Regions from separate parts of the Homo sapiens genome. Here regions 2 and 3 are each linked to region 1. Evidence: fine-mapped expression QTL. A gene starts in region 1. Each other region holds a variant in brackets. All regions are shown on one strand. Distances are from middle to middle.

Region 1 (10,281 bases):
TCAGCCTCCCAAGTAGCTGGGACTACAGGCACGTGCCACCACGCCCGGCTAAATTTTTTTTTTTTTTTTTTTGTATTTTAGTAGAGACGGGGTTTCACCGTGTTGGCCACAATGGTCTCGATCTCCTGACCTCATGATCTGCCCGCCTCGGCCTCCCAAAGTGCTAGGATTACAGGCGTGAGCCACCGCGCCTGGCCCGGTCCTGCAAACGTTTTTTTTTTCTTGAGACGGAGTCTTGCTCTGTTGCCCAGGCTGGAGTGCAGGGGCGCGATCCCGGCTCACTGCAAGCTCCGCCTGCCAGGTTCACGCCATTCTCCTGCCTCAGCCTCCCGAGTAGCTGGGACTACAGGCGCCCGCCACCATGCCCAGCTAATTTTTTTTTTTTTTTTTTGTATTTTTAGTAGAGACGGGGTTTCACCGTGTTAGCCAGGATGGTCTTGATCTCCTGACCTCGTGATCCTCCTGCGTCAGCCTCCCAAAGTGCTGGGATTACAGGCGTGAGCCACTGCGCCCAGCCCCTGCAAACTTTTATCATCACCTTTGCCATCATAATCACTCATCATCATCATCATCTCAGCAAACACTAAGATTTTATCAGTACTAAGCATTTTACACACATGATCTCTTTCCTCCCAACCCTCTCAAATGGGTAGTATTTATTATTACACTCCTTCCCATACTACAGATGATCAAATGGGGGCTGAGAAAGAATAAACTGTCTTAAGTCACAGAAGTAGTATGTGGAAGAACCAGGACTTGAGAAACAAGAATGCCTCTTCACATCCCAGAGTCTGGGGGAAAGAAACAGAAATATCTGAGGCTAGAATCTGATTCCTGTTATGTCACACCCGCCTCCCCACCATTCCTGGACTGCCAACCTTGCCCCGTAAGGAGGGAATAAGAAACAGTGGGCCTAAGGGTCAAGGAATGAACCAGCCCAGGCTTCCTAGGCTGCTGCTGTTCACCCAGGGGCCCGTAGAAATGCAGGAAGAGAGCCAGGGTGGCCTGGAAGGGCAGGAGCAGCAATAAGGAGGCCTTCCCTCACCCGTGTTCCCACCATCTCTGAACTTTGTCCCCAGCAGTTGGGCACTGGGAGTCATTAATCCCACACAGCAGCCTTTGATACATGCAGCGCCTTATCTGCCCTTCCCCGGGCCCTGGCTGCCTTCCTGGGCAACGGTGCCCTACCTCCCCCCAGTGACATGGGCACCCAGGACCCTGAGAAGCCAGAGCCTGAGGGGGAACAGGCGCAGGGACCCATGTCCCTCAGATAGAGGAGCAGAAGTGCCGTCAGGGGTGTAGGAGTAAGGGATAAGGAGGGGACGGAGTCCCAGAAAAGCTGAAGGAAATACTGTCTGTGTCAACATCTGGGAAGGGATGAGAACAGAGGTGAGAGTTCACCCGGAAACTTCACTTCCAGCCCACCCCGGGGACCAAGGTCCATTTTGCTGAGTGCTGTGGCCAGAGAAAAAACACACAGAGGCAGCCACCACTGTCCCAGTAGCCAGGTCAGCTCTGACTCCCCACCCTCACCCCAGCACTGTTACACAACGGTCACTGCCGCGGGCACAAAACACCAAGGGACAAACGGACTGTCGCGGGGAGAGGGGAAGAAAATGGGGTTGCGTGGGGTGGAGCTGAACAGAAGCCTCCCACAGAGAGCAAGTGTGCAGACCTCAGCTCCTCTCCCCTCTCTCCCACAACCCTCTATTAGCCTCTGCAGGGCTTCTGGGCACCTGCATGTCAGATCGTTGGGGTTAGAACCCTCGCTCCACCACTTCCTAGCTGTGTGACATTAACCAAGTGAATTTACTTTTCTGAACCTGTTTCCATACTGTGAAATGGAAATAATGAAACCTGCCTCTTGAAATTATTTGGGAGAATTAAATGAGATCTCATGCCTATAAGGTCTATTACATTAAGGTCTATTTACATTACATGTAAAGGACAAATCATTTTTTTTTCTAAGTCTTCTAATTGCTGAATAGACCATTTTATTTCCAGCATCGGGCACACAGTGGGTGCTCCTTGGTTCGATGAATAAACAAGCCAATCCCCTCGCTGGTTGGTAAGTCCTATGAAGGCAATGATGGTATGTCTCTTACTACTGCATCCTCACCACCCACCATGGACCCTGGCAGATAAAAGGTGCTCAATACATTGTTGAACAGAATCTCTGCACCAACTATCCTTGCTCACGGCAGGGGCAGCCCTCACCTTCTTCTTTCCCTACACCCCTCCCCGAACCCTGATTCCCACTTAGCTCCTCCCCCACCCTCGCGGCCCCCTCCTGGCCCTTCAACCCCCTTCTCAGCAATTAGCTTACTATCGCTTGCCCAGCTCCCCTGCAGAAGTAGCCACAGCAGCAGCCCCTCTGCTAAGAAGATGGCAGACCAGCAAGACACCCACTTCCAGCTGAAGTCCCTTTTGGAATTGGGAATTGGAGGTGGGTAGGAGAAGGGGTAAAAACTAAATGCGGCCAGAACTGAATCCAGACTTGCCTCCCTATCACACTGCCTCTGGCTACCTCTGGGGGCCAGTCTGCCTCTCCCCTCGATTCCACCCCATGCCCTAGTCTAGTTGTAATTACAGGTTCCAATTCCCCCAGACCTTAACGTCAATAAAGTAACACCCACCTACTCCCGCGCCCCCCACCCCCTACAAACACAGCTAGACCTCCGGCTTGTCATAAAAACTTTCTGGGCGGCCCCTTCCCTGGCAGCTCCCGAGGGTTGACCCAGAGCAGGTGCTAGAAGCCTCGCGGCGTCTTCCTGCACGAAGCGACCCAAGCAGCCCCAGTCCGCACCGCCTTGGTCAGCGGGCGCTCCCAGCACACACCCAGCGCGCGGAGCGACTCCTCCCAGAGGACGCCGAGTGTGTGTGTGTGTTGCGGAGATTAGGGGGTGGCGGGGGGGACGGCGGCAGTTTCTTGGGCTCTGGCGGCCCCACCCCCACCCCGGCAGCGCCCAGCCTCCAGGAACCCAAGGCAAGGCTAGGGCGCGGCGTGGTGAGAACGCGCTTCGGCTAGTGGGGGGAGCCCTTGCGCCCCCCGCACCCAGGCCACCGCGGGGAATCCCTCCTCCCCGGCATCTCCGGCCTCGGCCTAGGGTCCCCCGCAAGCCGGAGCCGGCGCGAGCGGCGCAGCGGGCGCCAGGAGGGGGCGGGGAGGGAGCCGGCGCCGGAATCACAAAGCCGCGAACCCGGCTAGGCGGGGACATTCTCATAAAACCGACCCTCTCGTGGCGAGCAGAGGGGGTTTTTTGCCCTACGCTCAATCCTCCAAGGCCTCAGTGCCGCCCCCAGTCTTTCCTGGCAGAAGAAATAGTAGCCGACCACTGTTGGGGAAACTGAGGCCAGAATTCTGACTTACAGAGGGTAGCTGGGGGGAAGGGGTGCGAGACCACCTCGCCTACAAATTCTGCTCCTATGCCTGCCGCGATCTCCGTTCTGGCTCCAGGGCCTGCCCGCGCACACACTGGCCTACAGCGGGGACCAGGCGGAGGGGGCGCTCAGGTGTGAGACGAACCCAGGTGTGCGGGACCCACCAAGGTGTGTGGGACCCAGGTGTGCTGGAGACCCAGGTGGCTCAGAAAACTCAGCTAAATGGCTGGAAGAGGGTCGCAATCACCGTCCCAGGCTAGCACCCTCTACAAAGGAACCTGGGGCCCCAGAGCTCCGGGGAGGCGGGATGGCTTGGCCAGCCAGGTCCAGCTTGTTCCCGGAACACCAGCCGGTTCGGCCCGGGAGTGGGGGTTGGGGAGGCGCCGACTGGGAAGCCGGCAGGCCGGCCCAGCCTTCCCGCTGTGCCGATATTTACAATAATAATGTCGCGATTAACGTGGCGGGGCGCTTGGGGCTCGCCGAACGACCCCGGCGGCTTCTCCTGCCTGAATCTGGACTCCGAGAGAGAGGAACGGAGTGTGTGTGTTTGTGTGTATGCGCTGCAGGGTGTAATGTAATGTGACACTGTTGGTTTAAGGTGTGTGTGACACCCAGTGTTAAGATGGGTGAAGCAGTGGATTCTGTGTTTGTGACCGTGAGGCGCTGCTGTAGGTGCCAATTCCTGTGTTAGAGTGTGTGCCATCAAGCGTGTGCTGAGATACTGGGTTGTGTGTTTGTGTGGGTGCAGTAGAGGGGTGCAAGGAGACCTGTGCTGTGTACCTATGTTCTGGCCAAGAAGTGGGTAAGATGATATATGCTAGGGTGTGTTCCTTAAAGGAATGTGGGGGGTGGCTAGGTTTTGAGGGTTCATCTAGTGAACTGTGGCTGTGACACTCGTACATGAGGGCACGAGATTGTGTTTGTGTGTCCACGTCGCGGGGTGTCACACCCGGTTGTGTTATTGCTCTGTAAAGCCACGGGTTGTGTGTCGGTGCTGCTGATCGTGCAGACACTGAAGCGGATTCTGAGCTGGCGACGGTGCCCCAGTGGGCGCTGGTGTGCGGGAGGTATGTCTGTGTGCACATATGCAGGGATGTATGTATGTGTGTATATATGTCCACGGTCTGGCCCTCTGGGTGCCCGCGAGAAGCTGGAAGCGGCTGAGTGAGCCGAGGTAGTTGCCCAACAAGTGTGTATGTATGTGTTGTGGACAACGGTCCTTGCTTGCTCCGTCCTCCGGGAGACCCCCACCAAACTGGGGGCCGCGCGCTTCCCCAAACCCATCCTCCACGCCGCGCGCTCCTGGAGTCTCCTTATCCCCGTCTCTCCGAGCGCGCCCAGGTTTGGGACGCGGGGACTAGGGTTCTGCTCAGCACCCCCTCCCCTCCCTCGGCTTCTCGCCGCGGACCTGGGAGGACGGAATCCCTCAGCCGCATCCCCTGCTATGGGCTCCCAGCAGCCCCCACCTCAGCCCCCTCGCGCCGAGCTCGTGTTGGGCCCCCGCGGCCTCGCTCCGCCGAGCGCCCCTCCCTCAGCTCCCGCCGGCCATGACCGCTTCGGGCCCCAAGCCGCTGCTGCCTCCACCGCCGCCGGATCCTTACCCGCCTCCGGGCAGCGCCGGCCGCCCGCCCCGCTGTCCATGAGCCGCCGCCGGCCCCGGCCTGGGCTGCGGCTCCGCACGGCTGGGGCTGGAGCTGCAGTTCGGGCTCCGGCTCCGGCTCCGGCTGGCTCTGGGCGCAGCAGCCCGGCGGCTTTGCGTCCGCGCCGCGCTCCCGCTCCCCGAGTGTGTGAGGCGGCGGCGGCGGCGGCGGCGGCGGCGGCGGCGGCGGCGGAGCCAGCAGAGAGCGGAGCGCACAGCCCGGCCCGCCCCCTCCCTCCCCCCTCCCTCCCGGCCCGCCCGCCTCCCCGCCCCCCCTCCGGCCGGGAGGTGGAGCTCGGGACCGCTCCGGTCCGGCTGGGAGGGGACCCCGAGCACCGCTCCCCAAAGCCTGGACCCCTCCCTCTGCCATCTCTTCACTGCCCGAGGCCCAGTACACAGGCCGTGCCCTCCTCTGAGCTTCACCTTACACTTATCCCACCCAAGCCTCCATCTAGGACCGCTCCTGGATTCCCCTCCTTACCCTACTCAAACACCTGTCCCCAGCTCTGTCTGCCCCCTGGGAAGTCGAGGCAAGGGAAGTGTCTCCCACAGCGCCTTCTTCCCTGGGCACCTGCTCCTCCATATCCACCCTCTTCCCGCCCAGATCCCCGATCGCCCTGTGTGGCCCTCCCTTCCCGCTGCGCTCGGGGAAAGTCCACCCCTCCCCCTCCGGCCGAAGCCGCAGAGCGGTCAGCCTCGGTGGCCGCAGCAAGCCGTGGGGGTGGGGCTATGGAGGGGACCGTGGGAGGAGGAGGCTAATGGGACCCGGGGGCTCTAGAGTGAGGATGGGGAAGATACACAAGCGTGAAGACGAAGTGCTGCTCCTGAGCTTAGGCTATTCGAGGGTCCCCTGATCACCTGCCCTCTGCACGGCGTAGTGCTGCGGCCACACGTATTTGCCAGTGACTTACATTATACAGTCACCGGGTCCCTGCCCCGCGAGGCCGCGCAGTGTCACGGCCTGTGTCACACGCCCTCGCAGTGCCACACGCTCCCTATCACACTCACACCAAATCACACACGGTGTCACACGCAGTGTCTCACACACTCCAATACTCGGTTTCTCCCATTCAGCTCTGGCTCTCTGGCGCCATCTAGAGGTCTCTGAGTAGCTTGGGAACTCCCTCTCCTGCGCTTGCGGTTTGGTAACCCAGGCTACCAAGTGTCCCAGTTCAACAGGACCTCCTGCCTTCTTCGCCTGCAGGCCCAGGCAGAGTGTTCTAGGTCAAAAGAATGAGGAAGGTTATCCCTAGCCAGGCCTAGTGCTGGGTGAGGAAAGGCTCTTGTTATGGGATGACCAGTTGTTGGGCCTCTTTTTGCCATAGCCTCTGACTCCCCATCTCTGTCCTTCCCCATTTTCCTGTTCCTACCACTCTTCTGTGCCTTTCCTCTTTCTTCTACTTCCTTCTCTTCTCAGCTCTGGCCTCTCTCGGTGGGATGCTCTTCAGGGTAAAAGTGGAATCTCTGGTTAGCTAAGAGGGCAAGCAAAGTCTGTCCAAGATCTCTCCCAGAGCAGCCCTGCTTAACTGGACTCCTTTTCTGACCTGGGCTCTGCTCTATCCCTCAGCCCCAGGAGCCCAGGGGCAGGGCTCTAGATGGGAGATGGGGTAATCTGGTGAAAGAGGGGGGTGGGTCTGTTCTGTAAGTAGCTTCTTTCTGTCTCTAGAAAGCTCATACTCTCCACATCATTGAGCACAGCTCCGAGGAGGGAATCAGTGGCCCAGAGAGAAGAAATCTTCCACAGAAGAGCTGCCCCGGTCTCCCTGCCCCCAGCGTGTGCCCGCTGCCCAATGCAGCAAACCCTCCCCAGTCTGCTTGCTGGGAGCCATTCAAAGGCTCCTCTGTTCTCCTCCCTTGCTCAGGGCTGAGCAGGATCAGCAGCCGCAGAGCTGGGCAGGAAATGCTAATCTCCCAGATGTTCGCCTCCATCCTCCCTGCTCCACCACCATCAAACTCAAATTCTGCACCAAGTGGTAGGAGCAGAACTGGGCCACAGCAGCAGCACCAGGGTGTGCCTACTCTTCTCCCTGCTCCCCAGCCCCTCCTACCCCAGCTGCCAGGCTGGGCTCTGTGCCCCTGAGTCAGGGACAATGTAGATATGAGAATTGGGGCCTTTTTTCCCCAGGAAAGAGGGCAGGTGAGCAAGCAGGGACTGGGAGGATGGTTGGGGAGCAAGGGAGGTGGCATTTGAAGAGGAGAGAAGTCAGACTTCTGGCCCTGTACCAAAGTGGGAGGAGGACCTGCTTGGCAAGTGAAGCACTGGGGGAGGCTCCTGAAACTGATGGTGCCTGAGTTCCAGCTGAGACTGTGGCCAGGGATTGGAACCAGGGTGATGCTGGGTATGGGAATGGTTGGGGTGCTTGCTGTGATATCCGTGTACCTGGGATGGGCTGTGGCTAAGTGAACTAGGATGCTGTAGGGCCTGGAACTGTAACACCAAGGCTGCTGCCTCTGATTGTACTTAGGACACTGTTGCAGTGCTCTGATGCTGGTGTGCCTAGGCTATAGCCAATAAGATTACCTGAGAAACTATCGCCAAGCTGTGTGTATATGGGTGTGTGTGTGCATGTTGAGGGAGAACTGTAACTGATAAGCTGTTGGGCCTGAAGCTATAGATATGAGGCTGGCACACCTGAGACTGGCTGTAGCTGAGAAGCTGTTCCCTGTTAATATGATGTAGATGGGACTGTAACTGGATCCATTGCCTAGGTCCTAGGAGATGAGAGGCTGTTGCGAGGAGCCTGTACCTGGGAGACAGGCTGTTACCTGGGATAGGAGCAGAGCTACTGTTGTGTATAGGACTGTAGCTGAGCTGCTATTGGTCCTGGAGCTGTAGCTGTGATGACAGCATACTGGGGATTGGCTATAGCTAAGATGCTGTTGCTCAGAATTGTGGTTGGGCTGTTACTGTGTGCTGGACTCTAGCTGGGATGCCTGCAGCTATAACTTTAAAGCTTGGGTGTAGCTAGGAGGCCATTTCCTGGTAATTTTGCTGGACCATTGTTGTGTGGGGGCTGTGGCTGAGACTCTATTGTTTAGGAGATGACAAGCTGTTCTGGGAGGCAGGATACTACCTGAGATGGAAGCTGATGTACTGTTGGAGCTGATCTACTGTTGTGCATAGGGTGGTCCCCAAGTGGCTGTTGCTGGGTCAGTGACGAGCTGGGTGGGGGAAGCCAAGTGAGTCCTGCCTTGAGGTCTGGGAGATGCCAGGAGCTCTAGGCTGGGTGGGGGCTGCTGCTCTGGGGAGGCCTCAGCAGCTGCTCTGCTGTGGAGCTGGAAAGCCTGTTTTCATTACTGTTTTAACTCTTTTTTTAACCTTGTTTTTCTCTCGGCTGCACTTTCGCTCACTCATTAATTTTGGTATTTTTCTCACGGTGCCTCAGCCCCTGTCACGGCTGCCATGGCAACAGGAGGCAGTGTGCTCAGTGCCAAAATATCTGATCAAAAAATAACCAAAATAAGCAAACACCAAGACGACTGTTCTGGGGACTATGGTCAGGGAGAGCCGATGGCTCAGATCCAGGAAACCCTAGGCTCCAGGGTACCTGTTTCACTACCCCTCTCCCCCAGGGAAGCTTTGCTGAACGTTCTGATAACCTAGAAGGCCCCTTTCCAAGGAATCCCCCACAGCACAATCTCCCAGGACTCTGAGATTTCCAATAGTTCCTGTCCAAGGGGCAGCTTTGCCTGAGGTGGGAGCATCGGGAGAGGGTGAGGGCTGGGGATCACTTCCCAGGAGCTGGCAGATGAAGCTTCTAAGAAGCTCCCTCCCTGCCCTAGCCACAAGCATCCGCACTCACTCATTCACCCACCCCTCTTCTGGCCCTTCTTGCCTTAGGCTTATCTCCCTTTCTGTGCACCCAACCCCCACTAGGCCACTTTTGTTTTCTCATAGCCCAACGTTCTGATGGGATGAACAGAGGGGAGGAAGCTGACAGTCTCCAGCCCCCTACCAACTCCTCAGTGGAGGTGCCAGAGAGGGGTACCATAAAAGTAGCTGACATTCCGAGGCCTCTGCCCACCTCTAGCTCACCTTCCTAGGGGAGATTCCTGAACATCCCTGACCACTCACACCGCACTCCAATTTTCCCTCCCACTTCTTGGGAGCCTTCTAGTTCCCTGGAGACCTCCTCTCAAGTGGGCATGTCCCCAGGAGGGGTAAAAGGATAGAGCCTCACATAAGTTAGAAATGGGCAGAGCTCTTGGTACTACCTGTCTCTTTTCCTTCTTCATCCACCACTTTCCCCTCTGAGGAGGCTTGTCTAGATGTCTGGAGCACTGGGAATTGGGGGAATGAGGAGGAGCCCCTCAACTCTGTCTCAGTCACATCACTTAATCACACCTCTCCTTCTGCCCCACCCCTCTGGCAGTGAAGGCTCACTCCCAACAGATCTCCACCCGCTTCCGGGAATGGCCAGAACTCGCCTCCTGCGTCTCTCTTTCCATTTCTATCTTCCCCTCCCCCCAAGAGCTGTAGTGGCCTTGGCCTCCTGGCAGTGCCTTCCCAGCCTGTTTCCATAGAAACTGGGTAGGCTGTGCAGTGCAAGAATCGGAGGGGAGACAGGAGCAGGAAGGAGGGACCAAGCCTTAGGGACAGCCCCCGATGAAAGGACCGAGAGAAACGGGGAGCTGCCCCATGCAAACTGAGGGTGGGACCCCGATTTGGGGAACCAGGCGGGATGGAGCGTGGAGTGGGGGGAAGAGGTAGCAAAAGCTTGGTAGCTGGCTTTGCTGCCTCCTGAGGAAGGGGCACAGAATCTCCCCTTCCCTGCCACAGGTAGTGGGGGTTCCTCCCTCCCCACCCCCTTAAAATCCTTCTTTACCAGGAACTGCCTGATCCAGATGAATCTCTTCTCCGGGGCCCACTAGTCTCTAAGAAAGGGACCATGGAATTCCTTTCTTCCCCGAAGAGCTCCCCACTCTCCCTGACCAGAGTCTCCTTGATCTGGAGGCTGGGCAGCCCCCGGGGACCCGGTGGCCGCCGCTGACCCCGTGGCATGCGGCTCTCAAAGGCCCCATTCATCTCTGGGGGCTGAAGGCGCCATTGTCCCCAGCGGGGGGTGGTGTGGGGAGTGAAGGGGTCTGGACTCAGAAGGAAGGAATGCGTCTGGAGAAGTTGCCCCCGGGGCTCCAGTCTCAAGGTCCCCACCAGATCTCCATCGGGACCCTTTCACGACCCCGAGCCCTTTCCCCAGGAGCTCCCAGCAACCTTCGCGCTTCTCCGGAGGGTGGGGTCTGCCGCGGCGCGGGGGCAGCCT
Region 2 (10,281 bases), 21 kb before region 1:
CAAAGGGAAGCCCAACTGGAAGAAGGGGGCCTGGAGCCCAGGGTGCCCTGAGGCAGCCCTCCCACCCCCTGAGATCAAGGCAATGGTGGTTTTACAGGCTGACGGGTCAGTCATGGCAGGGGCTGGGGGTTGAGAGGGCAGGGAGGGGGCAGGATGCAGGCCCCCTATATCGGGAGCAGCACCCAGCCACCCCCTGAGCAAACCTTCCTGCTCCCAACTCACCCAACCAGGCCAGAGGCACAGTCATCCCACCCCTGTCCAGCTGCCCCCCACAGCCTCAGGGCCCCTCTGTGATGCTCATCTGGATGTGGGAGGCCAGCCTGAGCGGGGATCCCCCCAGGGCACAGCGCAACAGTTCCAAAAAAATAGAGATTTGTATTTTTAAGAAAAATTAAATAAAAGCCCAGCTCTGCTGATAGGCAAATGTTACCCCCGTCCCCACCCCCACCCACCCGTTGTTTCCCTGGCCTGCACCCCCATCCCACCATGGCCCCAGGGGTATTTACAACATGGAACAATAGAGGCCTGGGTTGGGGGGCACTGCGGCAGGGAGGAGGGGGCACAGGGCAGGTCCCCCCCCAGAGGGGTCCCCCAAGACAACACGACATCAACAAGAAAAGTTGCAAATCAGGCAGAAATGGGGACGTCATTCCAAGGTCCTTATATACAGACACTGCATGACCAGCAGGGAATGGGGGCCCAGATGGGACTAGGCGTGGGCATGTGGCAGGCAGGTGGGCCAGTCCAGGAGCAGCACGGGAAAACAAGGCCTCCGCTCCACTCCCACCCCCGTCCCTACCCCACCTTTGGTAACAAAAGCCCTTCAGGGAGCCACTGGTGGTCAAGAGTTTCCTCTGGGAGCTCCCAGGGAAAGGGGCTCCCCAGTTCAGCCCTGCTTCAGGGCTAAAATTGGGCATGCTATCCCCGCCCTGGTCGGCCATGAGGGAAACAATGAGTTAGAAGTACGCTGCCCACCCTTGACTCCACCATCTGCCCAAATCGAGGGGGTGCTCCCTGGAAGTCAAGGGAAGGAGCCCAGTCATTGCAGAGGAGCCCTCTTGGGCATCAGATGGGGGAAGCCCCATAAAGGGGAAGGGGCCCCTGGGGGCTGGGAGATGGAAATGAGGGGAGAGGACCTGGACCCTGCATGGGAGAAGGGCCAGCGTGGTCATGAGGTCAGTGATACCCCCACTTGGGGCCCTGGCCAGGAAGTCCACGCTGAAGGGGTGGAGAGTGAGGCCCTGGAATGGGCCATTTGGGAGCTGGCCGGCGGCTGGGGGAGGGGGGCCGGCCGGCCAGTAGGGGGCTCACAGGTAGATCTCGCGCTTGGCCGTCTGGGCAGATGCCGGTGTGGCTGCGGGTGGGAAGTCCGAGGTCTGGGTCAGGGGGATTTCCTCCAAGGTGGCCGAGTCCTTGCAGGAATCATGGCTACTGTGGGAGAAGGCACTGTAGGAGGGCAGGAGGCGCACGGGGGCCGTTTTGGTGTTCCGGTCTTCCGGGGGGCTGGGGCTGCCGGCGCCCGCAGGCTCCTGCCCTCCTCGGTCCTGGTAAGGCACGAAGGTGGAGAGTTTGAGGGCGCTGCTCTTGGTCCGGCGGCTGGGAGATGACTGGCCAGGCATCCAGCATGTGTCAGAGTGGCCAAACTCACTGCACTCCCGGGTACATGTGCCTGTCATGGCGACATCAGGCAAAGGGCGAAGGTCTGTAGGAGGGAGCGGGGAAGGACAATTGTCAGACATACAGCCTCTGCAAAGCTCTGCTTCATGGCCTCCCACTGGCATCTACACCCCACCTCAGGACAGGAGTATGCGCCCCTTCCTGACCGCTGAACTCACAGGCACACACACCCTCAAAGAGACACATGCCCTCCCACCATCGACCTACTGGCCTACTGTACACACGCACACGCACACACACATAATCTATCTTTTTTCTTTTTCTTTTTCTTTGTTTTGAGATGGAGTCTTGCTCTTGTCACCCAGGCTGGAGTGCAATGGCGCAATCTCGGCTTACTGCAACCTCCACCTCCCGGGTTCAAGCAATTCTTTTGCCTCAGCCTCCCGAGTAGCTGGGATTACAGGCGCCCACCACCATATCTGGTTAATTTTTGGATTTTTAGTAGAGATGGGGTTTCACCAGGTTGACCAGGCTGGTCTTGAACTCCTGACCTCAGGTGATCCACCCACCTTGACCTCCCAAAGTGTTGGGATTACAAGCATGAGCCACCGCACCCAGCCTTATCCTTTTTTTTTTCAAGACAGGGTCTCACTCCTGTCACCCAGGCTGGAGTGCAGTGGTGTGATCTTGGCTCACTGCAGCCTCAATTTCCCAGGCTCAGGCAATCCTCCCACCTCAGACTCCCAAATATCTGTGACTATAGGCATGCACTACCATGCCTGGCTAATTTTTTATATTTTTTTGTAGAGATGGGGTTTAAGCCATGTTGCCCAGGCTGGTCTTGAACTCCTGAGTTCAAGCAATCCGCCTGCCTCAGCCTCCCAGAGTGTTGGAATTACAGGCATGAGCCACCAAGCCCTAAATAGACACATTCCTTCCAGCGTCACCTACCCCCCAGTGCTCTTCTTACACACCCACCAAATCTGCCCTCAGACAGGTGCACAAACACACACTCATCTACACACTGCCTCATCTATCTCCAGACAGACTTAAATGTGCAAATCTATCCTCAGGTGGGGTTGAGGAAACCTCCATCCTCATTGAATTGATTGACACAATCAACTCTCTCTCTCTCTCCCTCTCACACACACAGATAGGCATGGATACACAAATCTACTACAGTGGGCACCTCTATCCTCAGATGAAATTGGGTACATTGCTTCCTTCAGAACCCCCTCAAGCTTCACATGCTCCCGGTGGTCCTGAACCCACCCTCCTCCTGCAAGACCTTGCTTTAAAGCCAGGGGGAAGGGACGAGCTTCTGTGTGGGGTATTCACATAGAGGCACACACTCACATCCACAAGCACGCTCATGCAGCCCCTCCCCACCTCACTCTGGCCCCTAAACCAGCCACCACCCCTGGCCTTGCCCCAGCTCCCTGCCCAGAACACCCACGGGAACAGGAGTTGGCTGCCTGACATCAGCAGTAGCCGGTGTAGTTGCTGGGCAGCGGGGGTCTCCATGGGAACGGCTGGGCCATGAGTACTTCCTGTCACAGCTGTCCCTGTCCTGCCCTTGCTCAGGGACAGCACCAGGCAGTGACCCCCCCCCACCCCCAAGGGACATGGCTAAGCAACACTGCCTGGGACAGGGGCTCCCCTGGCACCACCCACTATGGCTTGGCCTCCTGCCAGTGCCAGGTGAGGAGGGGACAGCTCTGTTGTTAACCCTCAAAGTGCCAAGGCTCTACAGCTCAGAGCAGAGTTGGGGGACGCAACATGGCTCAGAGCAGAGCATGGGCACTGGGTGGGTGAGGCTGGGTGCTGGGCAGAGTCCCACAGACCCCAGACCCCAGAGCAGTTCCCACATACCTGGCACTCTGCCTCAGGGCCTGCTCCGGCCAGCCGGCTCTGCGCGGGCACAAAAAGGATGAGACGGGCATGAGATCGCGCATGGAGGGGCGGGGTGGGGGTGGAGGGCACTCTGAGACCTAGGGCCTGGGAGGTTAGACAAGGGCCCGGGAGGTTAGACAAGGGCCCTGTGCCTGAGGCAGGGGAGTGAAACCTCCCATCTTTTGTGGAGCGAGGAGGCTTTGAGTTGAGGGAGTGGGTGGGACCCGAGGACAACTCCAACTTAGAGAGTCTTTCCATCTCAGGGGTTAGCTCGTTCACTCTCCCCCTCCACAGGCTGCCATGGACGACTTCACACATGCACACGCACTGCACACACACTGACGGCACACCTCACCATCCATTCCCATGCCGACCTCTGCGCTGGCTCACACCTCCTTTTTGCCATCACCCTCCAAATCCCTCCCAGACAGGCCTTTCTCTTCACCAGACCTCCTACCGCGCTCTTCCTCAAAGAGGTGCCAAACCTTCTCCCACTCCTCACCCCAGCATATCGTCACTCCATTCTCTGAGCCCCCTGTAGCATCCAGGGCCCAATCTCTATTCTCAAGGCCTTCCCAACCTTAGAGGACCACCACCCACCTTCTCAAGGTTTCCTCACCATTACGTGAGCTTTCTGGCCACCACACTCAGGGTCCCTGTTCCCAGGTGGCCGTGTAAACATGGTGCCGAATGCAACAGCTTTGGAGTCAGAGAAACCTGGGTTTGAATCCCTCCCAGGTCTGTCACGTTCTAGATGTATGACTTTGGGCAAGTGACTTAACCTCTCTAAGCCTCAGTTTCCTCCACTGTAAAGTGGGTGCCATAAAGTTCTCAAATCACAGAGTGGTTCTGGGGATTAAATGCGTGTATACCTGAAAGCCCTCAGCACGGTGATGATGACTGAGCACATAATAACTCAATACATAGATGATTTGTTTAAGGCCTTGTCACCATTCCCAGGCTTCCACTCATTCCTGGGGTGCCCTGACCATGGTGCTGCGCCTCACCATTCTCGGGGTGCTCCATCTCTCCTATGCTGCCATCAGGGGTGGTGCGCTCATAGTGATCCTCAGGCAGGGCCAGGGGACCGAGTCGAGGCCCTGAGGATGACTTGCTGGACGGCGTCTCAGACTCCTCCAGGCCACTGTCATAGTAACTGTGCTGGGATGGGTCCTGCAGCTCCTGGGCCTGGCTGGTGGCCGAGAAGGTGACGCGGCGGTGAGGTAACTGCAGGGAGACAGATTGTCACTACTGACCAGCCAGCTTGCCCACAGGGCCCACCACCATACCAGGCCCTAGTACAAGCCAAGCACCATCCTACTCAGGCTTCAACAGCAAC[CAAG/C]AAGAGACCCAGGCCCCAGCACAGCACATTCCTCCCGAAAGCACAGGCCCCAGTGAAAGACAGCTCCTGAGTTCTAGGACCGCTCCTAGTACAGCCAAGTCCACATACTGGAAGTCCCAATACAGCGCAGGCCCCAGTGTTATTATAGCCCCTATGCTACCCCAATAACCCTCATCCAGTGCAACCGCTTGTTATAGCACAACCCTTCTAGTTCTAACCCAGCTTCCCAATATTGGCACAGCCTCCCTTTAATCCCAGAATGACCTGTAATACGGTGTAGAGCCCAATACCAGAGTAACATAATACCACCCGACTCCCCTAATTCCAGCTCAGCCTCTAAACACCAGCATAGCCTGCAGTTTCTAGAACAGCTTCCTAAAAGAAGCAGACTCCTAACTCCCAAACAGCTCACCAATACCACAACAGTTAGTTCCCTCATTTCCAAACAGCACCCTCCAAACTCCAGCTCCTCACCTGTCTCACTGCTCTTGCCACTGCCTCCTTCCAAATGAGGGAACAACCTTTCTTTTCTTATCCTGTGTTCCTCATCCCTGGTTTGTGATGTTGCAGCAGTCTGAAGACTCCCTGCTGTCGCCCCTCCCACTCAGCCCCCCATCCCCACTTCACTCCCCTCCAGAGAGGCCTGGGAGTGGAAAAAAAGGGAGGAGCCTGATAACAAACCAGGGCACCTGGGGGAAGGGGACAAAGCAGAACAATGGAAACTCCCCAGTCCTCCCGATCAGGAAATAGAATATTCACTGGAGAGGGTAGGGCTCTGCCAGGAGCCTGGACATGGGGAGAGGGCATGGCACCCATTAGGGATTAGGAAAGCTGGTCTCAAAGGGAGACTCCTTCCAGGAAATAGGAAGGAGCTTCTGGGAGGGCTGCTGGCATGAGGAGCCAGACTTGGAGGCTTGGACTGGGGACTGGGGGTCGGGGGAGTGGAACCGTGACAGGCTGCTCCCAGCCAGCAGCCCTGTATGCCTGCCACAGGTTAACGATCAGCCCTGGAACCTGGCAATCTCAACTTGGCACTTGGCACAACCAGCCAGCCACCCAAATACCCACTTGGGACTGCCACAGATTTTCCTGCCAACCAGAAATTAGGAGTTGTGGAGGGTGCAGACTCAGGGTCCCTGGAGGCCAGGGGTGAAAACAGCTAAGCCCAGGGCCCTGCTGATGAGTCTCTAAGCTCCTTCCCATCCTCCAAGACTTTGGCAGTGCTTTGTCTTACTCTATAACTCTGGATAGGAGGTTATGAAGATGGCCAGGGGAGGTGGCCCTGGCTTTGTAGACTTACCCTCCTAATAGCCCCATTCAAGGCAGCTAGGGTGGAAGAGGCTGTCAGGACAGGAGTTTTGGAGCTGCTGTGAAGGTAGCCCAGAACTGCCTCCCCACTATCCCCATTCCTGAAGATGGCTCCCACCTCATCTTCAGGAATAAGCGACCGTTCTTGGAATCCTTGTATTGATCTAAAACACTGAAGGGTCTGGGTGATGACTGATAAGGTCCCCAAAACTAACATGGATGTTTGGGGCCGGGAGGCTATAAAGGAGTGTAGTCCACCTGGTGTAGGGGTGATTAGGGTCCAGGAGGGGTCTGGGAGGCACAGGGCAACATGGTTGTTGGTGCTTCTCTTTCCAGTTTTCTTTCAAGATACTGGCCAGCAGTCCCACCTCCCTGCAGAACCCATATCTGGTAATTGAAGGCTTTGGTCCTGCCTACTAAGCAAGTCGCTTGGTCTCTTTTCCCATGATTCTTTTCCATAAAATGGAGGGTTGGGTTATACCCAACACTTAATGTTCCCTCTAATTTTATGACTATCAAATTATAAAAGCCCAGATCAAAAAATCTCTCTCAAACTCTTTGAGTCCTGAAGCTCTAGACACTTGCTGATTATTTCCAGTTGGCTCTGCCTACTGGCCCTTAAGATTCAACATGTCTGAAACCAAATGCTTCTTCAATTAGCTTCTGTATGGGCAATGATCTCATCACTATCCTATCACCCAGACTCAGAAGGCTGATGTCTACCTGAGAATCCTGGTAGCTCTCCCCTCATTCCCTATCCCTACCTCATATCCAATTATCCCTTGAATCCTGTGGGTCCTTTCTCCCTAACCTTTGCCAAATCCATCCATCCATCACCCCCATTGCCACCATCATAGTCCAACTCTTAGAGGTTCAGTCCTGTACCTTCATCTCTATGCCCTTTTAAGCCCACCATATATTCCAGTGCTCTTTCTAAAACTCAGTTCATCTAAAACACTCATGAGCTTTCAGGGACTAGTTCCTTCTGAAGAACTTTTGGTAAGGCACCTATGTCCTCTACAACCTACAGTTCTTCCAGTCTCATCTTTCAGCTTTCTCTTATGCCCCTCTTCTTGCCAGAATATTCCTTTTTCTGCCCTTTCCCTGCCTCCAACTTGGTTCACTTCTGCCGCAGGAGTTTGCTTACACGGTGACCCTGTGAGGAGGCAGGGGACCCTCCTGCCCTAATCCTGCTCATCATTGACAAGCTGACTTTCTCCTTCCAGAAGCCCATTTCCATGTCTTGTACAAGTTTTCCCATACTGTGCTCGTCAAAGGAAGGGAGGGGCAATATGGTGAAATAAATTCAGAAAACTCAAGAGGTAAACAAAATTGGGGCCAGGCACGGCAGCTCACACCTGTCATCCAAGCACTTTGGGAGGCTGAGGTGGGCAGATCGCTTGAGCCCAGGAGTTGAGACCAGCCTGGGCAACATGGCAAAACCCTGTCTCTACAGAAATTACAAAAATTAGCCAGGTGTGGTGGTGCACGACTGTAGTCCCAGCTACACAGGAGGATCGCTTGAGCCCAGGTGGCAGAGGTTGCAATGAGCCAAGATTGCGCCCCTGCACTCCAGCCTGGGTGACAGAGCAAGACCCTGTCTCAAAAAAAAAAAAAAAAAAGGTTAAACGAAGTCTAACAGGTTCCCCCTTTTTTGGAGGACTCTGCAGAGCCTTTAATAGGCTAATGTGATCATGAATTTCTTACTACCAAAACTAACTTCACCACAGAACGCCTTTTTTATAGCATAATAGGTAATAGGAGACCCGCCTGCTTTGTGTTTGAATTTGGCTGCATCACTATTTAGTTTTCACTTCTGCAAAATTAATATTAAAATGACCCATATCATAAAGAGTTATGAGCACTGATTGAACTAATTCACACAAAGTGCTTAGCATGGTACCTCACACCTAGTAAGGACTCAAAAAATGGAAGTGAGTGCCGGGCATGGTGGCTCATGCCTGTAATCCCAGCACTTTGGGAGGCCACGGCGGGCAGATCGCCTGAGGTCAGGAGCTCAAGACCAGCCTGACCAACATGGAGAAACCCTGTCTCTACTAAAAATACAAAATTAGCTGGGTGTGGTGGCACATGCCTGTAATCCCAGCTACTCAGGAGGCTGAGGCAGGAGAATTGCTTGAACCTGGGAGGCAGAGGTTGCAGTGAGCTGAGATCGTGCCATTGCACTCCAGCCTGGGCAACAAGAGCAAAACTCCATCTCAAAAAAAAAAAAAAAAAAAAAAAAGGAAGTGAGCAGTAGCAGTAGAAGTAGTTTCATGGAATAAGTTGGGAAAAGCTTTAGTAGGGCACTTCTCATTCGACTCAAGACACTCAATTGCCTCATCGTTCACTTGTCTGTCTTGTACAAGTATGGCCATTTTTTCATCAGGGTCTAGTACCATGCTGAGTACTCAGTGGAAACTTGGCCTGTGTGTGTTGATGATGACAACAGGTGGTGTGGTTTGGTTGTATCTGAATGTTGGGAGAAGACATTCAGTGTGGCTCCATGGATGGGTTAGGTTGGATTAGAGCTGAGTAAGAGACAATCCCTCAGATCATGGGAAAGAAAAAGAGATGAAGACGCTAAAGGAATAGGAGAAAGACGGAAGGAATGCCAGAAAGGACAGAAAAGGAAGAGAAAGAATGGGAGGTCAGGAGTTGCTGGAGATCACGATATGGTTAGATCTCACTTCCCCAGGCCCCACTCCTCCAAGGACCCAAGGAGTTTTTACTTTGGGGGCCCCCCAGGGCATTGGGGGAATTTGTGGATGGAATCAGAGGAGAGAGCTGGAGCCTTGGTCCTCTTGGGAGTGTCTCAAGCCTCTTTAGTCACCATGGAGATAGGTTGCCTCTGGCCTCAGAGACTCCCCCAGGGCCTGAGGCCCCTCAGCCACGATTTAGCCTTCCTCCAACTCAGGCACAACCAGAGACAGGGCAGACCCAGGAGAGCAAGAAGTGAGAGATGGAGAGAGAGAGAGTGCAAGCAAGCAACCCAGGGTGGCCAGAGCAAGGAGTGGAAAGTGGGGAGGGAGGTAGCATCACAGGCGGAAGGCAGAACTAGGAAGCCTCTGCTCATGAGCAGGGAACCCCCTAAGAGTGGGGGTGCAGGGCAGGTCAATGCAAAGAACTTAGGAATTCGCCATGTCTCCCCCAGGGCCCCGCTCCCTGCAGCTCAGGCTGGTGATCATGGTGGGGAGACACAGGGGAGGGCCAGCGAATTGCTGGGTGTTGCCTGTTGTTGGGATGAAGAGGCTGGGGAAGGGACTTGAGGGAAGGACTTGCCCTGGGGGAAGGTGGCTGGTGTAATCAAGAGGTTCTCTGCCTTCACCTAAGGCAGGAAGGAAGGCTGAATGCTACTCCCTACCAGGTGCTCCAGTCTGAGGTCTGTCAGAGGCAACTGTTTGAGCAGATTGGAAAAATCAAGCCTCAGATGGGGCAGGACTTGGGTATAGCTCCACCTGCCCTTTCTGGGTCATTCTTAGGAAGAAAGCCCTATAGACATGGGGCAAGGGGACACATTGCCAGACACCTCCATTTGAAGGCTGGTCAGAAGGCCACTTTCCCAGACGTGGATAGGGACATGGGGGTGGATGGCAAGATGGTAGGCTAAGATAGTGTGGGGTACAATGGGCAGGTCTAGGATGTGGCAAGAGGCAAAGAGAAGGGAAGGGGAAATTGAGGTAGGACCTGAGGACAAAGGGCTGCTTCCAGTCTCTCTCGCTGCTTCTCTCAGTTCCAGAAAATAAGAAACCAAAACTCCAAAAATAGAGAACTTTATTGTCAGGGTCAAGGGCATGTGGGACCCAGCCCCAGAAGCCTAGTGGTGAGGAAGAGGTTAATGCACAATACACACAGAAGGCACAATGGGAAGGTGCCCTCCCCTGGCAGACTCCCCACTCAGTTATCCACAGGACCCCAGGTCTCCCTGTTTCCCTCCTAGAGAAGCACCTAGGTCTGGTCTGACATAGAGACCTAGGTTTGGAGTAGACTTCTTACCCATTTCCCTCCCCACTTACGCTCACCTGCCTACCACCCCCAACCCATAAGGCCCAGTAGCTGGTCCAGGGTCCAGGGACTTGGCAAATCACAGGTCTCTCCCCAGTGGGGAGAGGGCAGGGAGG
Region 3 (10,281 bases), 67 kb after region 1:
CACATGGCCACCTTCCACAGATGGCACTCCTTGGGAGCAGGGTCCTTGTCTTTGTATTCCAGTGTCCCCAGCACTGAGTGCAAGGCCCCATGCAGGGTAGGAAACCTGAGGTTTCAAGCTCAGGGTTTTAAGCTGTGCAGTGCACTAAGCTCTCTGCCAAAAAACAAACAAAAAAAGGTTTCTGTGGTTAAATAAGTTTGGGAAATGCTGCACCAGACGTCCCCTTTTTATAGATTCACAATACACATCAGCATATTTGAGGTTCCAAGAAGTCCTCCAGTAAAGAACTTGGTTAACCCAATGTTTTCTCTCACTGAATTGAGCCCAGAGCCCGTTTCCCTACAGATTGCTTTTGAGCCTTCCTGGGGCACCCTCTGCGTGAAATGTCACCGTGTGCCCTCCCTGTGGAGCCCCACTCCCCAGCCTCCTCCCCTCTGTGGTCATTTTGGATTTTCTGACTACTTCCTTCTAGCCATAGCTGGGGCCGAGGGCTGGTTCACAGTCTGGCCACTGGGCGTCCTGTGGTGAAGGCCAGATGCAGCCCTCCCTGAGTGGCTCTCCCTCCCACTCAGTCACTACTGAGCTAAGTACTGATTCAATTTGGGGTGCCAAAGGTTGGGGGTAGGATATTTTTAAGCTCTCCAATTTAAAAAGGAAGGGCCTCTCCTGTGGAAAGGGAAGGATGGCAGAGTCGTGAGAAAGGTGTTGTCAAGGGACCAAAAATCCTTGGCTGTTCAGTCACTGCGGTCTTGATCCAGCCCCAGGGGGATGGGCTTCACTGGCAGAGCTGGGTACTGCTGTGCTTTTGCCATTAAAATTCTGTTATTAATGACTCATCATCAGTGCCCCAGAGGAAGTGTGAGAGGACGAGAGGGAGGTGGCTCCCATCAGCAGGGCCAGCCTGGGTCAGGATGCTGGGTTAAAGCCCGGCGCCCTCACCAATGAGACCTTTGTGGGAAGCTCTACTGCCTCAGTTTCCCTATCCGGAGATGCTGTTTTCAGGGAGTCCTGACACTATGATGGGAACAAGGCTATTTGGTTTACTATATCATTAGTGCTAATATAGTGTGGGGCACTCAGATGTTCAGTAAATATACATTCAACAAATAAGTGAGTGATTATACTCAACTCCCCCCACCCAATGCCCAGCACCAAGCCTACCCAGCACATAGTAGGTACTTTAAGTAATTTGAATGAATAATTTTAAATAACTTGAATGAATAATTCTGTATTGCCCCCCACTCGCCGCCTATACACACGCACACACGCACACACACACACACGGTTTCCTGTGCTACTTCTGGCACTTAGTAATTATTCAATAAACACAAAATGTTTGTTGCATGAGTGTTTCTGATCATGTCCTACTCCTCCCACGTTGTACCCAAAATTTAGTAGGAGCTAGAAAATGCTTATCTATTTTCTAGGTACACACTATGTGCCAGGCCAAGCCTCTCCTTCCTCCTGTCCTCTCTTTTTTGGGATTTGGTTCTCTCCAGAGTTTCAAAGGTAGTGGTTGCCACATCACTCTTATTTCAGCCAGAGAAGAGGCAGCGTCAGTGAGCTGCCAAACTGAAGTTGGGTGACAGACAAGGCAGCTGCCTGTCAATCTCTGAGCTGCCTCCAGGCTCTGAGTGAGCACTGCATTGCACTCCTGGTGCTGGAGAACGGCTGACTATTGATTTAAAAAATGTCCCTCTATGCTTTCCAAATTAGGACGACATGTAACAGTGCTTGCTGGCTCGCCTGCTCCCTCAGTCTCCCAGGGGACAGAGCCCATCTTGGTGGAAACTGTTTTGAGCGTGTCCAAAGTCTCAGCTTTGACATCTTGGCTGATGTCAAGAAATTTCTGTAACCTTCCTGTTCAACACACCCAGTTCTGTTACCATAGACACGGTCTCACTCTGAGCTGTTATTGGGAAAGGTGCTGGTATCAGCTCATCAGGAGGGGACACATGGTGCAGGAGAGAACACTGTCCCTCACGTACATACACCCCCATTCTGATCAAAGTTCAGAACAGGAGCAGCTCTACGCAGGAGTTCTCCAGGTTCTGCAGGGAAGGCAGGGCTGAGGGCTGACCTAGAGGATTGTAGTGCTTTCTAATCTTAATTGGGCCCGAAATCTCTTTGAGAATCTGATCTAAGCACCTACTTCTTTCCATAGAAAAAATGCATATCCTCCCAATTTTGCATGTAGTTCAGTAGGTTCATAGATCCTGAAGTCTAACCAAAGACGTCAGATTAAGAATCCTTGATGTATTAAAAAGACCACCATACTAAATCCCAGATCCAAATCCTGATTTGAGCAAGCACTCAGTTAAATGTCTTAATTTGGAAAGCTCTCCCCCACAAACCTGCCAGGTGGCCTTGGGCAAGTCATCTGCCGTTTCTTTCTATATTCTTGGCTATAAAATGAAGAGTTGAAATAGATAAAGTTCAGACTCTTTATGACAACTGCCCATGTCTGTGGATGTTTAGATAGTATCTTAAAGCAATGCTGTGTAACCTTTTAAAGGTCAAGGTTTCCTTTGAGAATCTGATGAGAATTTTGTATCTTCTGCCTAAAAAAGTGTCTAGACACAAAGTTTTACCTAGTATTCAGGGTGCCCAAGGAGTACAGATTTAGGGCTTTTGAACTAGAATGATGCAATGGTCCCATGTGTCTAGTGATCCAGTTGCCAGCTATAGCTCCAGCTTCCTCAGGTCATCTCCCCCTGCCCACTCTCTTCTCTCCACCCTCCCAACATCTGCTCTGCACTGAAAATCTGCTGGTAACTGGGAGGTCACCATGGTCTACTCCAGTACTGTGGTTCTCAGACTTTGCTTTTACATCACAGAGTCTTTTTTTCTAATGAAGTCCTACCTGGAGCTCCAATATGGATAAAAGGGGCCTCTGAAGCATTTATTGACACATTTATTCATTCATACATCCATTCAACAGCTATTCATCAAGTGTTGCTTTGTAGCAGGCACCTGGCTGGTCAGGCTGGAGACCCTGCCTGCCTGCTTGATATCCCCCAGTTTCTCTCACTGGCCCACAGAACCCAACAGTTCTGTGATCCAGCCTGAAAATCACAGATTCTGTAAGGAGATCACTCTGGCCTAGAGTGAGGTGAGGAGAAACTCTGCCCCTGAAACTCATAACTTTGGGGAGCCTCATTTTCTTCATCTGTAAAATGGAATAATGATACCACACTGTATTCCAAGTATGTATGATGCACATTATCCCTAGTTGGGAGTATGATTGGCCCATTTCTTGAACAGTGAACATGAGCACTGAGCTCCAAGAAAGGACAAAAAGAGGAGCAGATAGAGGAACTTTTGCCTGCAGTGTCCAGGAGAGACCCACACTATTTAGAAGCTAGCTGATTGGCTGCTCGGAAATTTCCAAGAAAATTATAAAGCTGAACCTTGGGAAAATATCTGCTGTTTCTTCCCTCCCCCATCCCCTGGAAGGCTGGCTGCTGTCAGTGCCGATTTCATAGACCCAGTTCACACAGCGTCCTCTGGGATTCACAAGCCTGAACCTGCAATGACAGAGGAAGGTTTACCCGCAAATGGGGTTGGGAAAGATGACATCCGCACTTGAAGAGCTACTTGTTGGGAAAGAACGGGTCTGCATCAGTTCAGATCCAAGTTCCTTTTGCCTTGTGCTTGGGAATGTAGAGAGGTGCGGGCCTGGATGGCTTTGGAAATGTTCCTTTCAACAGTGTTTCCCGAGGGAGCTCGAGCAAGTTCACTGCTGCCAACAGCTCACCTCCAGGGCCTTCCCTTCTCCTGTCTTTGGTTGGCAGGCTGGTGTCAAGGTTGAAGGCATGGGTTTTGGTGTTGGCCCAGCCTGGGTCCAAATCCTGGCTCTGGCTCTACTCCCTGCTTGATCTTGGGAAAGCCACTTGACCTCTCCAAGCCCCATATCCGTGTCTGTGAAATGGGGTTAATAATACCTCCCTCCCAGGATTGTTGGAAAATCAAATTAAATCCTATTGTAAAGCCTGGTGCCTGGCTCATGTAAATGCTTTATAAATAGTTGTGCTTTCTTAGCTCTAATTTTGCAGCTGAGAAGCAGATTAGTTGGTAACATAGTGATAGGGGAACAGGGGTAAGAGCACACATGTCTGCTATTTGTGTACCTGTTACTGTGTACCAAGGTGCCCCACTCCTGTCCAGGCCCAGTGTGACGGTCTTGCCAGGGATTGGATGACAAATAAACCCCACTCTATTACTCTTCCCTTCTCCCTCTTGACAGGTGCAAACAGGAGAATGAATCACTGCTTTTCCTTTATTGATAGGTCAGAGAGCATTTCCTGGCACCCCCAGGGTACAGCCCCCTGACTCCTGCTACCCAAGAAGGCCACCCTTTCCTGCCTGTGATACTCCGTGGCATCTGTTCTGCCAGAGGACTGACCCTTTGTGCTCCACATATGTTTTGCCAGGAAACACTTATCTCAGCCACAAACCGTCCCTGTCCTCCAAAAGACTCAGAGCTGCTTACAAGGGGCTGCTTTGGTCAGTCAGCTGTTAGTCCTGGGGCTCTTGCCTCCTCTGTGGGGGTAGCATCAGTCACCCTAAAGTTCTCAGGCCGCCGCTAGCTAGTGAGTTACAAGATTTTAGAAACCAGCTCTTGTCCACAGATCCTCAGGCCCCTGGTTCTTGGATCCAGAGGCGTCTGAGGTATGTTCACAGGCACCTGCTGCTGCTGCTGCTGCCTCTGCTCTTGCCCTCAGTCCCCGTCTTTCCACCTGGGTCCCCTTGCACTTTCATGCCTGAGGCTGCACTGGTGGCCAAGTCTAAACTGAGGGTCCTCCCGCAGACCGAGAGCCGCCGCAGCGCCTCGGAGGCGGCCTCCACGGGCATGCTGGAGCGCTGTTCCAGCAGCATCTCCAGCAGTGAGCTCATCTCCGAGACAAAGGTGCTGGCCAGCCTCGTGCCTGTTGGGCTCAGCTCTGGTGCCTCTGCCTTGCCGAACGTCTGGAAGGTCCT[T/C]GGCTCCTCCGTGGCTGCAGCATCCGGGGAGATCACATTGTCACGGTAGTTGGTGGTGAGGGGCAAAGAGAGTCTCGCCATCCAGGCCGGGTCAGGGGCGCTCAGCCGGTCCAGGGCCAGACCTGTGGGGGAAGGAGGGGACACAGTGAGGGCCAGGCTCCGGGAAGGGCCAGGCGGGTGAGGGTGGGGCAATGAGCAGGGCAAGGGCAGTGGACAAAGGAGGGAAGGGAAATGGCAGGGGACAGACAGAGTGGCCAGACGGGGACAGGAAGGAAGAGGCCCTGACAGGGAAGCTCCCTGGGTAGGAAAGCAGTCGACTGACACACCCGGGCGAACCAAGTGGGGAAGCAGCAGGAGGAGGAGAAGGCCTAGAAGTAGAAATTTGCCGATTTCTGAAGAATTTCCCAATCTGGGCGTGTGTTTCCAGTCTCAGTGTCTTCTATATTTCATCCAGGATTTTTACCCCTCAGGGCGCCTTCTCCCCTCAGGGCTCCACTAGCTGAGGATGGAGGGAAAATCCCTTTTCTTTGCCAAGGCTGGAGTTCCTGACTTAGCGCTGCCTTTTTTGGTTCCCATCCATAATAATAGGGACCACATATTAGGTACTTACGTGATGAGCAATTTACATAATTATTTCATTTAACTTCACAAACCTTTGAGGTCAAGAGTATTATTCCCATTTGATGGATGAGGAAACTGAAGCTGAAAGAAGTTAAGTCACACATCTGCTAGGCAACCAAACCTCAATTTGATGCCAGGTCTGATGACTTTGAAGCCTATGATGGCACCACCCTACCCTCTCTCTGAAGAGCTGGCCCTTCCTCCCCCTGGATACTCCAGGTGCCCAGCTGGGGCCTCTGGAATTCCCAGGCTACCTAAGGTCTGCACTGTTACCACCTGGCCCCAGATCCTCAAATCCTCCTCAACATCATCTCTCAAGCTGCTGGAACCCTGGCCTAGAGTCAGGCTGGGGAGGGGCTGCCTGTCCAAGGGCTGTCCCAGGAGAGGGACTGGGGTAGTGGCGGTGGCAAGTCAGCCTGGTGGCTGGGAATTCAAAAAACTGGCCCCTACATTTGCAATGCCACAGTCACCCTTCTTTTCCCATCCCTTTAACAGAAAATCCTGTTTCAAGAAACCAGTCCCAGGCCTGATGGTAGAGACCAAGCCAGAGGAAAGAAATTATAAGTCTTGGAGTTAAGAAACAGTGTCTTAAAAAAATTAAAAAAAAAAAAAAAAGCACAACATCTACTTAACATTTATCTAATGTTTGCCTAAGGTGAGTTACTTTAAAATCTGCGCACAGAATGAAAGACTGGAAGGAGATATGTCAAAATGTTAACTGAAATTACCTCTGGGCAGAAGCAATCCATTCTCTTTTTGTTTATCTATGTTTTTCTATATTAACCAAATATTACTTATGTAATTTGAACAAGTTATTCCGAAGTATGTGTAGTCATTTATTGTACTGATAAATGAATCTCTGCCCTGCATTCTGGACTGTGCAGCTTGTGAGACACTGTTGGGCTCCTGCCCTACTGGATCCTTGGGTTTAGCCCCATGCCTGGGACTTAGTGAATGTTTGTTGAATGATTGAATGAACATAAATATTAACCTTCAACATTTGGGAAATGCAAACCTTAGTTCCTTGAGACTCTGAGGCTATAAGGTTGGATGGAACTCTTGGTGTTATAGAATCAGGCCTTTCCTTTTACATGGGTCAGAGAGCTTCAGAAGGAGTGAAGCTTGGAATGAGAAAATCACTGGGGCGTATGAGAACAGCTGAAAAGTGATGCTGAATTCACCCAGCATCACCCACCAGTTCTAGCTGCAGGTGGGCACTGGGCCAACCTGGGTTTGATTTCCCAGCTTTGCAGCTTAGGGGCAGTGTGTGTGACCTTGGGAAAATGGCTTAACCTCTCTAAGCTCCCGTTTCCTCTTAGGAAGTGGTGAGACAGTAGTACGTATCTTGTGGAGTTGTTGTGAGGTTCAGTGAGTTCATGCAACCAGGAAAACATTATCATGGTCGCATTCTCAAGTGGGGCAATCTGAATCCGAAGCAGCAAATCTGAAGCAATCTGAAGCAGATCTGAAGCAGCAAGATCCCAGTCTCCCCATGGCAGTCCAGCCTGTGAGCAGCAAAGGCTTTTCTGCCCCTCCTCTTTCCTTACCCCCAACTCCTTACAGTGCCCCTGTGTTCAGTACCCTTTGTGCTGTGGGCAAGCAGGACCGTGTGGGAACTGACCCCACAGGTTCCAGCCAGAGCTGACCAATAGAGATAGAATCCAAAGCTATATCCCCCAGCCATACATAGCCAGTGAGCACTTGAAATGTGGCTGGTATGGCAGAACTGAATATTTTATTTTATTTAATTTTAATTCACTTAAATTTAAATAGCCACTTGTCGCTAGTGACTACCTCATTGAACAACACAGCTCTAAAATTTACAGCCACACTGCCTGTGTTAATAACCATCCACGAGCTGCACAACCTTGGGCAAATTATGAAACACCCCTGACCCTCACATTTTTCCTTTATGAAATGGGGATAATGAATAGCCCCTATCTCATAAGATTTTCTCATGAGGTACTTAGAACAGGGCCTAGCACATAGAAAGTGCCCAATAAACATTAGCAATATTTTTTAACCAAGGAAAGAGAAGTCCCTGCCATACCTTCAGTGTGTCTGCAGCCAGATGGAGCACATGAGAAACAGTGTTAACTACATAGATAGAAAACCACAGCACAGGGATGGTCTGCCGTGGGGTGTGTTACCAAAGGAGGCTGACCAATGTCCACAGCAGGGGCGGGGGGCGCTAGCAGATTCTTGAATTCAAGTTCACATTATGTATTTATTGTCAAAGCTAATTATTTCTCTGCAAAAAAATCTTTTTGTTTTCATTGCAATTGTTAGCATATTAAAGAGTTGACCTGGTTCCCAGGGTGAAAGGGTATTGAAACACACCAAACGCCAATGAGTGGTAAGAAGTCCATAGAGGACAGGCTGGCTCAGGGTTTGGCTCCCCTTCAATCACTGGTGAGCTGGGTGACTCTGGGAAGGCTACTTGATTTTTTTGAGCCTCGGTTTGCTCATCTGTAAATTCGAGGTAATAATTATCTACTTGAGGGGATTGGTTGGAGGCTTAAATGAGATCATGTACATAAGATGCTTCCCCAGTGCCTGGCATGTTCACTATTTTTACAATGATTTTTAAAATGAATAATCAACGTAGGCCAGGTGCCTACTTTGGCTTTGATTACAGGTGGCTCATGCCTCTAATGCCAGCACTTTGGGAGGCTGAGGTGGGTGGATTGCTTGAGCCCAGGAGTTGGAGACCAGCCTGGGCAACAGGTGAATCCCTGTCCCTACAAAAAAAAAAAAAAATCAAAAATTAGCGGGATGTGGTGGTGGTGCTCACCTGTAGTCCCAGCTACTTGGGAGGCTAAGGTGGGAGGATCACCTGAGCCCAGGAGGTCAATGCTGCAGTGAGCTGTGATCATGCTGTGATCATGCCACTGTACTCCAGCCTGGGTGACAGAGCAAGACCCTGTCTAAAAAAAAAAAAAATCAAAGTAGAACCTGGTCTTTAAAATACTTTCTGAGGCTGCAAGGGTGCAAGGGAAGTTAAATGTTGCTGATGTTCCTCCACAGAAACAGAATGGCTTTTCCCTGCAGTGGATTGGAGCAGAACTCTGAAGCTTGGACACCATGGGGCAGAAGCAGGGTCAAGGTAACTCCAGGGGGTCCCTACCTGTGCTGGGGTCCAGCAGACTTGACAGCTCTTCTTCTAGCAGTTGCTTCACAGAGAGGTCCTCTTCAGGATCCAAAGGCCCTTCCTCCTGTTCTGGGTCTGTCTGGCCTCCAGCCCTTGCACTTGGGCCATCTGTGTCTGGGATTGCACTCCTGCAAAAGAAACCAACCAGTCCATGGGTAGGGACATTCCCATATAGATTCATTCATTCATGCCCATTCATGTTTGCATTCATTTACCCATATAGGGAACTGGATACACAGCCTGGCCTCTAGAGTCAGACCAACCTGGATCATGTGATTCCCGCCCTCCTCTTACTCTGTTTCCTCATTTGTAAAATGAGAGTAATAAATAACACCCACCTCACAGGGTGTTGTGAGGGTAAAATGAGACGTTGTAGGTAGAGGGGCCTACCACAGAGCCTGGCACATTGTAAGCACTCAGCAGACAGAAGTGAAGATGAGTTCATTGATATCATTCTCGTTGCCCCTCCCATGTCTAGGTATTGCCTGGCACACAGGAGGAGTTTAGTAAACCTCAGTGGAGCCAGTGCAGCCGTCCATCCGTCCGTAGGAGAAGGCTGGGATTTTTGCCTGTCTCATTGCCTGCTCCCTTACTGATGCTCAGAACAGGGCGTGGCACACAGTGGGTGCTGAATGAGTGACTGAACATTCCTTCCTCCCTACTTTAGGCCAAATCCTAGGCCAGAAGAGCAGACCTATGGAGGGTGCAGCCGGAGTGAGGCAGCCTAAAGCTGCTCAGAATCTGCTACCTGCACCCCAGTCTCCTGCTGTCTCCATCCTGGTCCCTCTCTCCCATAGACACTTGGGGACAGGCCTGGACCCTCATCCCAGCAGGTGGGAAGGCTACCTGAGGGGTTTTAAGGCGTAGGAGTCCTTCTGTTTGTTTGGTTTTGTTCCCCTGTAGCCATTTCTGCTGCTGTGAAGAAATGAGCAGGGAGGTGGCAAGTGTGTGGGTGATAATGACAACTAATGTTTTTGAGCAGTGAGTCTGAGTCAGGCCTTATGCGATGCAAGGTCCATGCACCGTCTTATTCAAACCTTCCACACCTGTAAGGGGTTCTCTTTAATCAACCCATTGTACAAATGAGAAAACCAAGACTTGTGAAGATTTTGCAGGTTGCCCAAGGTCCCCATAGATTAAGAGATAAAGCAAGACTTCAAATCCAGGCCAGTGTGACCCTGGAGTGTGTGGACTCACCCCTGCAGTACACTACCTCTCACCATCCTTGTAAAAAGAAGCTGTAAGTTGTCAGGGCAAGAGCACTGATGCAGGAGTCAGGAACTCTGAGAGCTGGTCCCAGCTTTGCCACTCACTTGTTACATGACCTTTAGCAAAATTGCTTCAAGGGGAAAGGAGTTAGCATTGTGTGTGCACCTACTATGTGTCAGTTGCTGGGCTATGGGCTTAGAATACAATTGATTATGAAATCCTCACCCCATTACCACAAGGGAAATGGGATGGGTTCTGTTTTACAGATGGGGAAACCAAGGTCCTGAGAGATTATCTCACTTGCTCAAGTTTACATAGCT

What was found. PIP is the estimated chance that this variant, and not a neighbour inherited with it, causes the effect.
Region 2: its variant is the best candidate, but not a certain one, in a credible set for the expression of PCDH1 in whole blood (TOPMed, PIP 0.76).
Region 3: its variant is the best candidate, but not a certain one, in a credible set for the expression of PCDH1 in whole blood (INTERVAL, PIP 0.81).

What each region holds. Positions count from the first base shown.
Region 1 is chr5:141,873,241-141,883,521 of GRCh38, forward strand. It overlaps PCDH1 (protocadherin 1), which reads right to left and starts at 5,170. Exons shown (of 5, transcript NM_032420.5): 1 at 4,983-5,170. The coding sequence starts at 5,022. RefSeq lists enhancers at 1-365, 3,468-4,152, 4,419-5,168, 9,198-10,080.
Region 2 is chr5:141,852,735-141,863,015 of GRCh38, forward strand. It overlaps PCDH1 (protocadherin 1), which reads right to left. Exons shown (of 5, transcript NM_032420.5): 4 at 4,518-4,737; 5 at 356-1,702. The coding sequence ends at 1,308. Among named protein-coding and RNA genes, the nearest start is that of PCDH1, 21 kb to the right of the region's middle. The variant CAAG/C (reference allele first, on the strand shown) is at 4,850.
Region 3 is chr5:141,940,704-141,950,984 of GRCh38, forward strand. PCDH12 (protocadherin 12) reads right to left here. Exons shown (of 4, transcript NM_016580.4): 3 at 8,729-8,880; 4 at 2,878-5,102. The coding sequence ends at 4,678. It overlaps DELE1 (DAP3 binding cell death enhancer 1), which reads left to right. Exons shown (of 12, transcript NM_014773.5): 12 at 1-1,344. It also overlaps a transcript of RNF14 not described here. Among named protein-coding and RNA genes, the nearest start is that of PCDH12, 12 kb to the right of the region's middle. The variant T/C (reference allele first, on the strand shown) is at 4,981.